Regions from separate parts of the Homo sapiens genome. Here region 2 is linked to region 1. Evidence: fine-mapped QTL for protein levels in blood plasma. A gene starts in region 1. The other region holds a variant in brackets. All regions are shown on one strand. Distances are from middle to middle.

What was found. PIP is the chance, under the fine-mapping model, that this variant and not a neighbour inherited with it causes the effect. The UK Biobank Pharma Proteomics Project read protein levels with antibody pairs (Olink). The fine-mapping took linkage between variants from a reference panel, not from the people measured, so its PIPs are less certain.
Region 2: its variant is fine-mapped to the plasma level of the GRAP2 protein (UK Biobank, PIP above 0.99).

What each region holds. Positions count from the first base shown.
Region 1 is chr22:39,899,082-39,904,460 of GRCh38, reverse strand. GRAP2 (GRB2 related adaptor protein 2) reads right to left here and starts at 3,377. Exons shown (of 8, transcript NM_004810.4): 1 at 3,131-3,377.
Region 2 is chr22:39,944,076-39,949,454 of GRCh38, reverse strand. GRAP2 (GRB2 related adaptor protein 2) reads right to left here. Exons shown (of 8, transcript NM_004810.4): 2 at 2,271-2,362. The coding sequence starts at 2,348. Among named protein-coding and RNA genes, the nearest start is that of TMA7B, 14 kb to the left of the region's middle. The variant T/C (reference allele first, on the strand shown) is at 2,466.

The sequences.
Region 1 (5,379 bases):
CAACTTTTCTTTATGTTTTATGTTCAGTTATTTTCTCACTATCTTTTCTTTTCTTTTCTTTTTTCCTCTTTTTGAGACAGGATCTTGCTCTGTCGACCAGGCTGGAGTGCAGTGGCACGATCTCAGCTCGCTGAAACATCTGCCTCCCGGGTTCAAGCAATTCTCGTGCCTCAGTCTCCCAAGTAGCTGGGATTACAGGCGCCTGCCATCATGCCCGGCTAATTTTTGTATTTTGGTAGAGACAGGGTTTCAACATGTTGGCCAGGCTTGTCTCCAACTCCTGACCTCAGATGATCTGCCTGCTTTGGCCGCCCAAGTGCTGGGATTACAGGTGTGAGCCACTGTGCCCGGCTGTTCTTCACTATCTCCTTAAGGTATGTCTTAACATTTTCTTTGGAGAGTATATAAGACTTTTATCATCATGCACTTCGTGATAGTTTCTTTTAATTCTCTAAAATTTTTGTTTATAAATACATATTTAAAAAGAAAACAATCTTTAAAAATTATTTACTGAATTCCTACTGACTCAAGTTTATTGAAACTTAATGTTAACACTGTTGAAGAGGACTTGGTGCCTAGTGCCAGGCCTGGCATATAGTAATTGATCGATAAATGTTTGTAAAATGCTTATTTGTTAAACAGGACCATGCTTTCTTAAGAATTTTTAAGAGAAAAGAAAGGGCAGGCCAGGTGTAGTGGTTCACACCTGTAATCCCAACACTTTGGGAGGCTGAGGCAGGCGAATCGCTTGAGTTCAGGAGTTCAAGACCAGCCTGGGAAACATGGCAAAACCCTGTCTCTACTAAAAATACAATATTAGCCAGGTGTGGTGGTGTGTACCTGTAGTCTCAGCTACTTGAGAGGCTGAGGTGGGAGGATCACTAAACCCAGGGTAGTTGAGGCTGCAGTGAGCTGTGATTGTGCCACTGTACTCCAGCCTGAGTGACAGAGTGAGACCCTGTCTCAAAAAAAAAAAAAAAAAAAAGACTCATGAGGCTGTGTTATTATCATTATTATTATTTATTTTTGGAGATCTGCCCACCTCGGCCTCCCAAAGTGCTAGGATTATAAGCATGAGCCACCGCGCCCAGCCAAGGCTGTGCTATTTCTTTACAGACCAAGGTATGCTGGGCAAATACCTCAAATGGACAAAATGGGGACCTAGCGACCCTATTGTTTGATTCAAACAACTTATAAAGATTCTTTAACAAGTTTTGAGTTTGTTTGATAGGGGCACAAAAATGAATCATCTGCCCCCAGGATTATCCAGCAGCAACTGTTACTTATTTAAGAAATCGTGATGGAATCACACTTACTGACACATTTTCGAACAATTGCAGACTTTTCTTGACCCAGGAAAAAAGGGCAAGTTCTACTCAAGCTTAGGCATGAACCCTGTCAGTCATCAACACCAGTGGGTGTTATTATCTGGGAATCAATAAATATGTTGGAACTAGGATCATTTTCAGCTCTTCTAGGAAGCAATAGTTCTAAAAGAGATGGCTTCAGGAAATAAGTGAGAGACATTTTGTATAAGAAGTGGGAAGAAAATGATCAAGAGTCAAAGAAACAACTAATCATGATATCGCCTTGCATTTTTATAGAGCCTTTTTCCTAAGGCACTTCATATCTATGTTAACTCATTTATTCTTACAACATCCCTACGAGGTAGACAGAACAATTGAAAGGGATTTTCACCAGGGCCTAAGATGTGGGAGATATTCAAAAGGATATTGTATTAGCAACAGAGATATTTCTTCATATTGAATAGATTGATCATCTCCTTCTCCTCTGCTTCAGTAAAGTCATTTTTAAAAAGATAAAATCTATTACAATTTGGGGAGAATAAGATTTCAGTTTACCACATGGGAGACACTCCAAGTTCAATCTAAAAAAGCAGTTTTATTCAATAATATAGGGCCACCTCTCTTTTACAAAAAAACAAAAAAGGGTATGAGTCAGATTTTTTTCGTATTTGAAAATTAAATATACTTAGGTGGTCCTCTATTTACACAGTGTTCCTTATTTAATAGCAGATGGTTTTGTAAAGAGAATCACTATAAAATTATTCTATAAAGTTTTACATAAAATACTGGATTGTTAAAGGAGAGTAACTTCTGCTAAATACTCTTTCCGAAACCAAAAATAAGAAACAAAAAGGAGCCACTAAAGAACTAAACCGTTTATGACAAACATTGCTGCATAGAACAAAAGATTCTGCGACCTGAAGTTTCCCATCCTCAGATAACATAACGAGAACACACGAAATTTTTCCCATTGGATGTTTAGATCTAAAACACTTCCCACTCCTAGTTTATCTAGGGATGTGTATGTTCAATAGTGTGCAAATTATGCTGCATACACTTTATTAAGAAGGCCTAATTCCAGGTAGATAAATACGGTAAATTTTTTTTGACAGTATACCTGTCAGGGCAATACAGTACATTTTAAATTAGTGAAACCTTTGGTTGGTATGTTCAATCCTCACGTTCAGGAAGAGTTGGGACAAAGAACACAAAGCAGCTATCTTCAGACTGGACGCCTAAACCAGAGACAGTCATAGGGATGGAGCCTAACGGCTAGTACGAAGAGAGACAATACCCTTCCAAAATACACTTCAACATAAAGTTTTCTTTTCGTAAAGGAATGAAAACTGGTGTCCTTTGTACAGGTAACAAAAATGCGAACAGAACTAGAAATTCAAGCAAAGAGAGAAATCCTGACCTCAGAGTGCTAGTGTTCATTCATCACTGCTCAGCCCTCTACCACCCCCTCCAATCCCTTCCAATTTGGATTAAATTCTGACCATGGTGAAGTGGAATTTTACCTCCATGATCCCAAGGTCGAAAATCTTTCCCTGAGATGCTTCTGAAGCCAGTTTGTGGAGATTTTTGTGTTATGGACTGGGTAAGGAACAAGTGTTCTCCCAGTTCATTTGATAGAAGTCAAATCCCATCACCACAAACATTGTCACAGCAAAAGGTTTAGAGACCTTAGCTGATGGGACTTAAAAGCAATATTTAGAGAACTAGTGAGATTCATTTTAATTAACTCATACAGAACATTCTGCAAATTATAAAACTGTTCAAAGTTTCTAGAGTATATGTACAGATGTTGTATAATGACATACCTTTTGGAAGAGAAGGGGTTGAGTTTATGTCTTGGCTTTGACACCGAGTTATTAGAATCCTTTCTGGCAAGAAGGGAGACAAATTCAAGCATCAGAGTTACTGCATTTCAGAGTATGGATCCACTTTGTGCTGTCTTCCATGTACCACTCTGAAAGAGGGTGCAAGTTTACAGATCCATTAACTGTGCCTCCTCCTCCCCACCTCTTACTCCCTCCTCCAAACTAACCCTAGTCAGCCCTGCAGTCTGTAGGCAAACCACACAGGAACTAGCACATATGGGGCTTCGGAGAGTTGGGCGTGAGCCTTAGATTATGTGGTTTTGTTTTCTTGCTGCCAGAGTTGAACTAAAATGCAGGAGGTTCACTGAAACACTTTTGCTTCTTTATGCTTGGTTTCAGTTTTAACAATATCCCCCCTGAACACTTGTGTTCACATAAGAAAATTTATAGTTCTTGATATGGTCCATCAGCAAGCTGATCTTAAGGAAAACTCTTATTCTCTTAGTATAATCATGCATCCAGAGGAACATTAGGGCTTCTTGGGGGAACTTATTTAAGAGCACCCTCGATCACTCACAATGTTAAAATCCCAGGAAAGATGCTTTGTTCATACACTCAGCCTCTAATATTACTCTTGACAAAAAAAGAAGAAACATTCTGAGCTGGGATGCATTCTCACCCCAGGTTTGCCACAGTCCAGCATGAGGTGGAACCAGTTCCTTCAATTTCTGGGACTTCAATTTCTGTTGAGTCTTAGACTGAAGGCTTTCTGGGATTTAAGACTTTCCATTGACCTTGAGTTTTGTTACCTTCAACTTCCTTAGTTCTTACCTTTAAATGTACCACTCACCCTTCCCCCTATATCAACTGCAACTTGTGAAGGCCTCTTCCTTTCTCTTTGCTCTTGCTAGAAAATGGATTGCCAACGTTGCATCTTTTACAGAAAATTAGAGACATTGCTACTTGCTAAGTGGCACCATTCAGAGTTTGGGGACTGGATCCAAGATGAGGAGGGAAATGTTGGCTCACTGGGATGTTCCTAGCATTAATCCCTGGAATACCAAGAGGAGAGTGTCAAGGAGAGATTCAATTTGGGGTTCTAAAATTTAAACTTTTTCTGCAATGTGAAACGGCATCCTTTTCCATCTCTTTGCTTCTTTATATCTAAACCTTGCTTAAAATTTACTTTCTTAAAACCTTTTCCTTGGTTATAATTGCCCAACATTTTTATTGAAATAGAAAAGAAGAATCAGCAAAGTGTCAAGGTGACAGAAAATGCTCAGTAAATATTTGTCGAATGAGTTAAAGGAAGTAATTTTCTATCCATAACTCCTTTTTTTTTTTGAGACGGAGTTTCACTCTTCTTGCCCAGGCTGGAGTGCAATGGCATGATCTTGGCTCACTGCAACCTCCGTCTCCCGAGTACAAGTGATTCTCTTGCTTCAGCCTCCCAAGTAGCTGGGATTACAGGTACCTGCCACCATGCCTGGCTAATTTTTTTTGTATTTTTAGTAGAGATGGGGTTTCACCATGTCGGCCAGGCTGGTCTTGAACTCCTGAACTCAGATGATCCGCCCGCCTCAACCTCCCAAAGTGCTGGGATTACAGGCATGAGCCACCGCACCCGGCCCTGTAGCTCCTTAATAACAGGCTTTCTTTTTATTAATGCAACTTTGTCAAATTTTCTTAAATCCTGGTTATATCTGAAAAGGATCTCTGCTATTTCCACATTATAAAGATAAAATTTAAAAATAACAACATCTTGCTACTTTAAAAATAATAACGTCTCAACCTTGACCTCAGAATTATTCAGCCTTCTAAGGACCTTCTTGGATCATTACACTGAACAGCTCTATTGCCAAGTTTTTAAATGCTGAAATCCTCTGGCTACAGTCCTTATTCTTTGATAGCTCCCAAGTCGATGGTTTTGAAATGGTTAAAGGAGTCCCTAAAATTCTATGGTTGGGGAGTGGGAGCGAAGGGAAAATGTTGAATGGTGTTACATGGAAAGTATCATGGTGTTTTCAGCTTGTACCCTAATGAGGAAGCTAATTTTGCACCAGGCACTACTCCCCAGGGAGCAGAATATAATCCTTCCCCTTACAAGCATGGGACAGATTGCAGAACAGAAAAATCTCAAAGGCAAGTTATTTTGGTAGTAAGTACTGATTGACAGACATGTTATGTAGAGCATAGTGGGAGGGAAGCAAGGCCACTTGAGTGGTTTATTTCATAACAGCTCTGTAACT
Region 2 (5,379 bases), 45 kb before region 1:
ACATGCTAGCTGTGTGACTGTGGACATGTGATTTAATCCCTAGCCTCAGTTTCTCATCTATGAAATGGAGGGGAAATGAATGCCTACCTCACAGGTTTGCTGAGATGATGAAATCATGCCTGCAAACCACTTAGCTAGATCCTGGCCCTGAACAGGAGCTCAGGAGACGTTGGTTACTGGTCACCAGGATTTGGTAAAGGAGGCATTGATGATAATTGGGGCTTCTAGCTTGTGACTGACCTAGGATAATAATTAGAACATGGAAAGAAGAGTGGCTTGGGTGGAAATGGGGGTGAGATGGGCATGGGGGTTTGAGTGATTCTCGGCATCCTGAGTTAGGGGCTGGAGTTCATGTGGGGACATCCAGCAGACAATTGGAAGTCTGGGTCTGGAGTTCAAGAGCAAGGCCAGAGCTAGAACACGAGCCACAGACTTGAGGGTCTTTGGCACAGAGGTGATAGTTGCAGCTGAAGAAGTGGATGAGGTGGCTCAGAGTGAGAAGAAAAATCAGAAAGCCAAAGGCAGCACCTTCAGGGAAGTGTATATTTCAGGATCAAGAGAGGAAAAAGAATGCTTGGAAATGAGACCTGTAGGAGTGGTCAGGAAGGGAGGAGAAGAACCCGGAGAGGGTGGTGCTGCCAAAGCCAGGGAGAAAGGGGCTTCCAGGAGAGGGCCAGTTAGCAGTGTCAATCCCACAGACATTTCCATAGGGTCATTATACTACACATTAAGGAGATCACTGGTGAACTTCAAGAGAATGTTGCAGGGAGGGTAAAAGGCAGATTCCAGAGAGTTGTGGAATGAGTGGGAAGTGAGGAAGTGAAGCACGCCCAGTGTAGAGAATTCTTCCCAGTATTAGCAACAAAGGGGAGGAAAGAAATCAGGAGCTGGATTGGGAAGCAGAGTTGAGCAAAGTTTTTTTTTTTTTTCTTTCCTTTTTCCTTTTCTGAGGAATAGAGAAAACTTAAGATACCAGGTTCTCTTTGTAATGGAAGACGAGGGTGGAAGTTGGTACAAGGATGGTCTCCAGTGGATGACAGTCACATGATCACAGTGCCCCACAGAGAAGGCAGGAACTTCTCGCTGCTTGGCAAGTCCCTCCAGGAGCTTCGTAAGACCCCAAAGCAGTGACAGACAGGTTTTCCTGGGTCAGGAGGCCCAACTCATATTTTAAGTTTGTGAAGGCCTATGCTTTGCCACTATGTTACTAGATCTTGAAAGTTGAGAGCAGTTAGAAGGCTACCTAATGGGCATGTTCATATTCCAAAAGAAGCCATTCTGTGGTGTTTTGTGCTCCTCAGACACTTTCAATGTCACCCTCTCACATGCTGACAAGGTTCTTTGTATAACAAACCTAATTCTCGGTGGTGAGACACTAATGGCCTCAGTGTTGCTGGGCGTCCGAGAAGGCTCATTGGGACTGCTGAGGACCAGGGATCAGGCTATCTGAGGACCAGGGATCAGGCTATCTGAGGACCAGGGATCAGGCTATCTGAGGGTGCTCTGAGGTCAGGCAGAGGGGGTCTGGCTCCACACACTCCCAAATGCCCTTTTGAAGGGCTTATGCTCTTTTGCAAACAAACAAAACAAAACAAAAACCCAAGGGCTAAGATGCAGAGTCTGAAAGTATGGTGCATGAATGTGGGAGAAGTCCAAGGCCACTTCAGCTCAGCAAGTGGCCACTACAACTCAAGTGCAGGATGAGGACAAGCTTTAAAAAGCCCCTGAGTGGCCAGGTGTGCATGGCCTTTGTTGAGCCATGTCCTCTGTGGCTGCCTTTCCCAAGCTGTCTCCACCCACAACCTCTCCTCCTGAGTTCCAGCTCTGCTGAGCCTGGCGCTGCTCCCTGCATTCAGCATGGGCTTGCACATCTCTGAGCTTTAGCTAAAAGCCCAAGTCACCTTCAGTGCATTCCTGACGTTCACATTGCACACACTCCTACAACCCCCATCTTTCAAGATGGAATCACTTGTTCCCTCACCTGTGCTCCCTGAGAACTTAGCCAAGAACATCTGTAACAGCCCTTTGGGTGGATGTGTTCCCCTCTCCAGACTACGAACCTCCCAGGACAAGGATGGTGGCTTATGCCGACTGTATTTCCATCACCCGGCCTGGTTGGTGTCTGGTATAAGGGTGCACAAAGGGAATCAAGGTGAACTTCTCTTTTTAAAAGGAACCACATGCAGTTCTTAAGAGACAAAGGCAGGGACTGTCAGATTACTGAGTAACTGAAACTCCCTACTGCTCCCCTGGGGCCCCAGGTCACCTACCTTCAAAACATCTCCAGTGTGAAAGCTCAGTTCATCCTCACCTGAAGCAGTGAAATCAAACTTGGCAACAGCTTCCATGCTGTAACGTGAAGCTGGAAGAGAAATAATGTGGTCATTGTGCCTCTCTGCCAGGGGGAGGGCAGCAGAGCCGATGGTGCTTCCTGGTAATCAGCAGTTCCTAGGAGAGTGGGCAGA[T/C]GGATGTCTCCAGGCCGGAGAGCAAGGCTCAGGCACACAACAAGGGCTTGTGTTTGCAGGAAGAGCTGCCGGAATCTATAGGATCTAGGTCCTGGGATCATTCTCGGAATCCCCAGATGCCAGGAGCAGGAAATGAAGGCCATCCGCAGCCTTTCCCTTCTCCTTTCATCATCCTGGCCTGACACCACTTTTGGGGGCATCTCTGTTTGCAGCTGATAAGGAGGGAAGGCTTGCTATCATCTGTAACTTGAGGCCTGAGGGGCTGGAAAGACTATTCTGTAAACACTGTCCCAAGGCTGTCCCTTGGCAGCTATATTTAACCAGGCAGTGTTAATTAGACGGATGCCATTTCCTCTTTTACATCTGAATCATTTAAGAGAATTAGACAGCATTGGCCAGTGGGGAACTCAGCTTCCTTCTGCATGGTTTGGGAGTAGAAAGAAGTTCTTGGTCTTCGAGTTGGGAGGCTCAATTGGTCAGATTACTTATTTTATGATATATTATAAACCAAGTACATTTTGGGAATTTTGATTTTAACATTTTTGAATTGAGTTAAAATAGTGGCCCCCTTCTTGTAATGCATGAGACCCATGTAAAGATAAATGAGTCGGCCTATGTAATACATTTAGTATGAACTAGAGCTGTGCTTTAGGAGGCAGCGGGGATGTAATGGTAAGACAGCTGGCTCCAATCCCAGTTTTGTTGGTAGATAGCTGTAGACTCTTGGGCAAGTAATTAAACCCTTGGAGTCTCCATTTCCTCATCTATAAAATGGTGATCATAATATTCAATTAATAAAGTTGCAAGGTTAAATCAAATTATAGATGCAGGCCGGGCGCTGTGGCTCATGCCTGTAATCCCAGCACTTTGGGAGGTCGAGGCGGGCAGATCACCTGAGGTCAGGAGTTCAAGACCATCCTGGCCAACATGGCAAAACCCTGTCTCTACTAAAAATACAAAAATTAGCTGGGTGCCGTGGCACGTGCCTGTAATCCCAGCTACTTGGGAGGCTGAGGCAGGATAATCGCTTGAACCTGGGAGGCAGAGGTTGCAGTGAGCCAAGATCATGCCACTGTACTCCAGCCTGGGTGACAGAGCAAGACTCTGTCTCAAAAACAAAACAAAACAAAAAAATTATAGATGCAAAGTATTACACCAGATAAAGCTAAATAGTATTTACGTTTTAAAATAATTTTATGGAATGAATTTTTCCCCAGCAAAGGTAGCCTGACCAAAATCAGCACAAGTTTTCTTTCCTCACTCCATCTCCTATGAACTTTTCTCATTGAAATTTGAGAACTAATCTCCATGACTATCAAATCCTGTGATTCTCTGCTAAGACAGCTTAACTGTCAGGACAATCTTGAAAGCTGTTATTTTCTTGTTGATCAAAATTTCCCTAAGTTTCAAACCCTTTAGGGTAGAAAATAAATACTCTCCAACCTAATAGACTTTCAGCGACCAGTCAACTGGGACCACATTTGTCCTCTCAGTGGGAATTCCTACCCAAGTTAACAAGATTTGGGTAAATAAGGAAGGTGGCTGCCAGTGAGAGGGTGAAACGCCAGGAGATCAGAGGATTAAAGCCGACTGCAACAGGGTGATAGCAAGGGGCTCATTTCTCTGATTCTCCACAATTGTTCAATCTTTCGAAGGTAATTTATAGAGATGACTATTACCCATTCAAAGGTAGATGTTAAGCAAAAAATAGACCAGGAGCCAAAGTAAAATGTCACAGTTAACTCTTTGAGTCAAAACGTACTCCCAAACAACACCATCACAAATATACTTTTTGTACACTTTCTTCAAGATCCATCTATCGAAGGCAAATTAAAATTGTTGTGACCTAGGACGACCCACTCAACAGGAAGGAGTATTCTGCCCTCCTAAGTTAATGCTAAATGCCTTTGCTGATTTGATTCACCCCATCATTTTAACACACAAGGCTTCTTCTAATTAAGGCCTTGCCTCTAGTTTGCAGAGAGACATGACTTCTGTGGGTCATCCTCATGGTATCAACAGTAGACAGTGGTCGCCTCGTGGGATCAAGTGTCAGGTGAATGGTCCTGAAGACCAAGGTCCCATTTGTATGCAAATTCACCTTAATAAGCAGGATGGAGACAAGGGAAGGGCAAATGCTAAACATATTAGAAAGTTACATAAATTAGAAATGAAAAAATATCCCAGGCAAGCTCTAGATAAGACCTTGATTTGGGGAAGATCTTTCCAACATGACATGTAACTCAGCTCAGGCTTGGGCACTGGGTCCAGGCTGGCTGTAAATCACTTCAGTGAGAAGTGAGAAGGCCGAGGCAGAAGTAAAATTGCTTCTGAATAGCAGCACTTTCCTCTGCCTTCCCCCAGGAGGTAGGCGGTATGGCAAAGCCAACGACACAGCCATGTCACAGAGCTCCCCAGCTTGTAATATTAATCCTGGCTCAAAAAACCCAACTAAACAGGCCCACTCTTTATAAAATCGCTTTGAAAAAATTTGTTTGCTCCCATTTCCATTTGTGAGATGAAATCTGCCCAGCTGCTGTTTGTTCAGGGTGGGGTGGGGTATGTTCTCTTTTTGTTTAAACCACAGGGCTTCAAAAACTCTTCCCTTGAAGCACCCCTAGTAGTAGAGAATAGTAAATATGTCACCCTCAGGGGTCGGTTTTCTGTTTGGTCATAAAAATGCATGGAAATGTATATCCCATTCCTCTATATCCATTAGCATTAATTTTGAAAAGTTTAAAAATTACCACCAGGGAAAAAGGAATCTGATTATCCATTTGTTTTATGATCTGTACCTGCCACCACTACATACTGCATTGGAGAAACAACAACAAAAAATATGATGCAGATATAAACTGGGTAGCAACAATTTAGACAGAGTTGTGGGGGGCGGAGTGCAACAGCCTGAATTCAA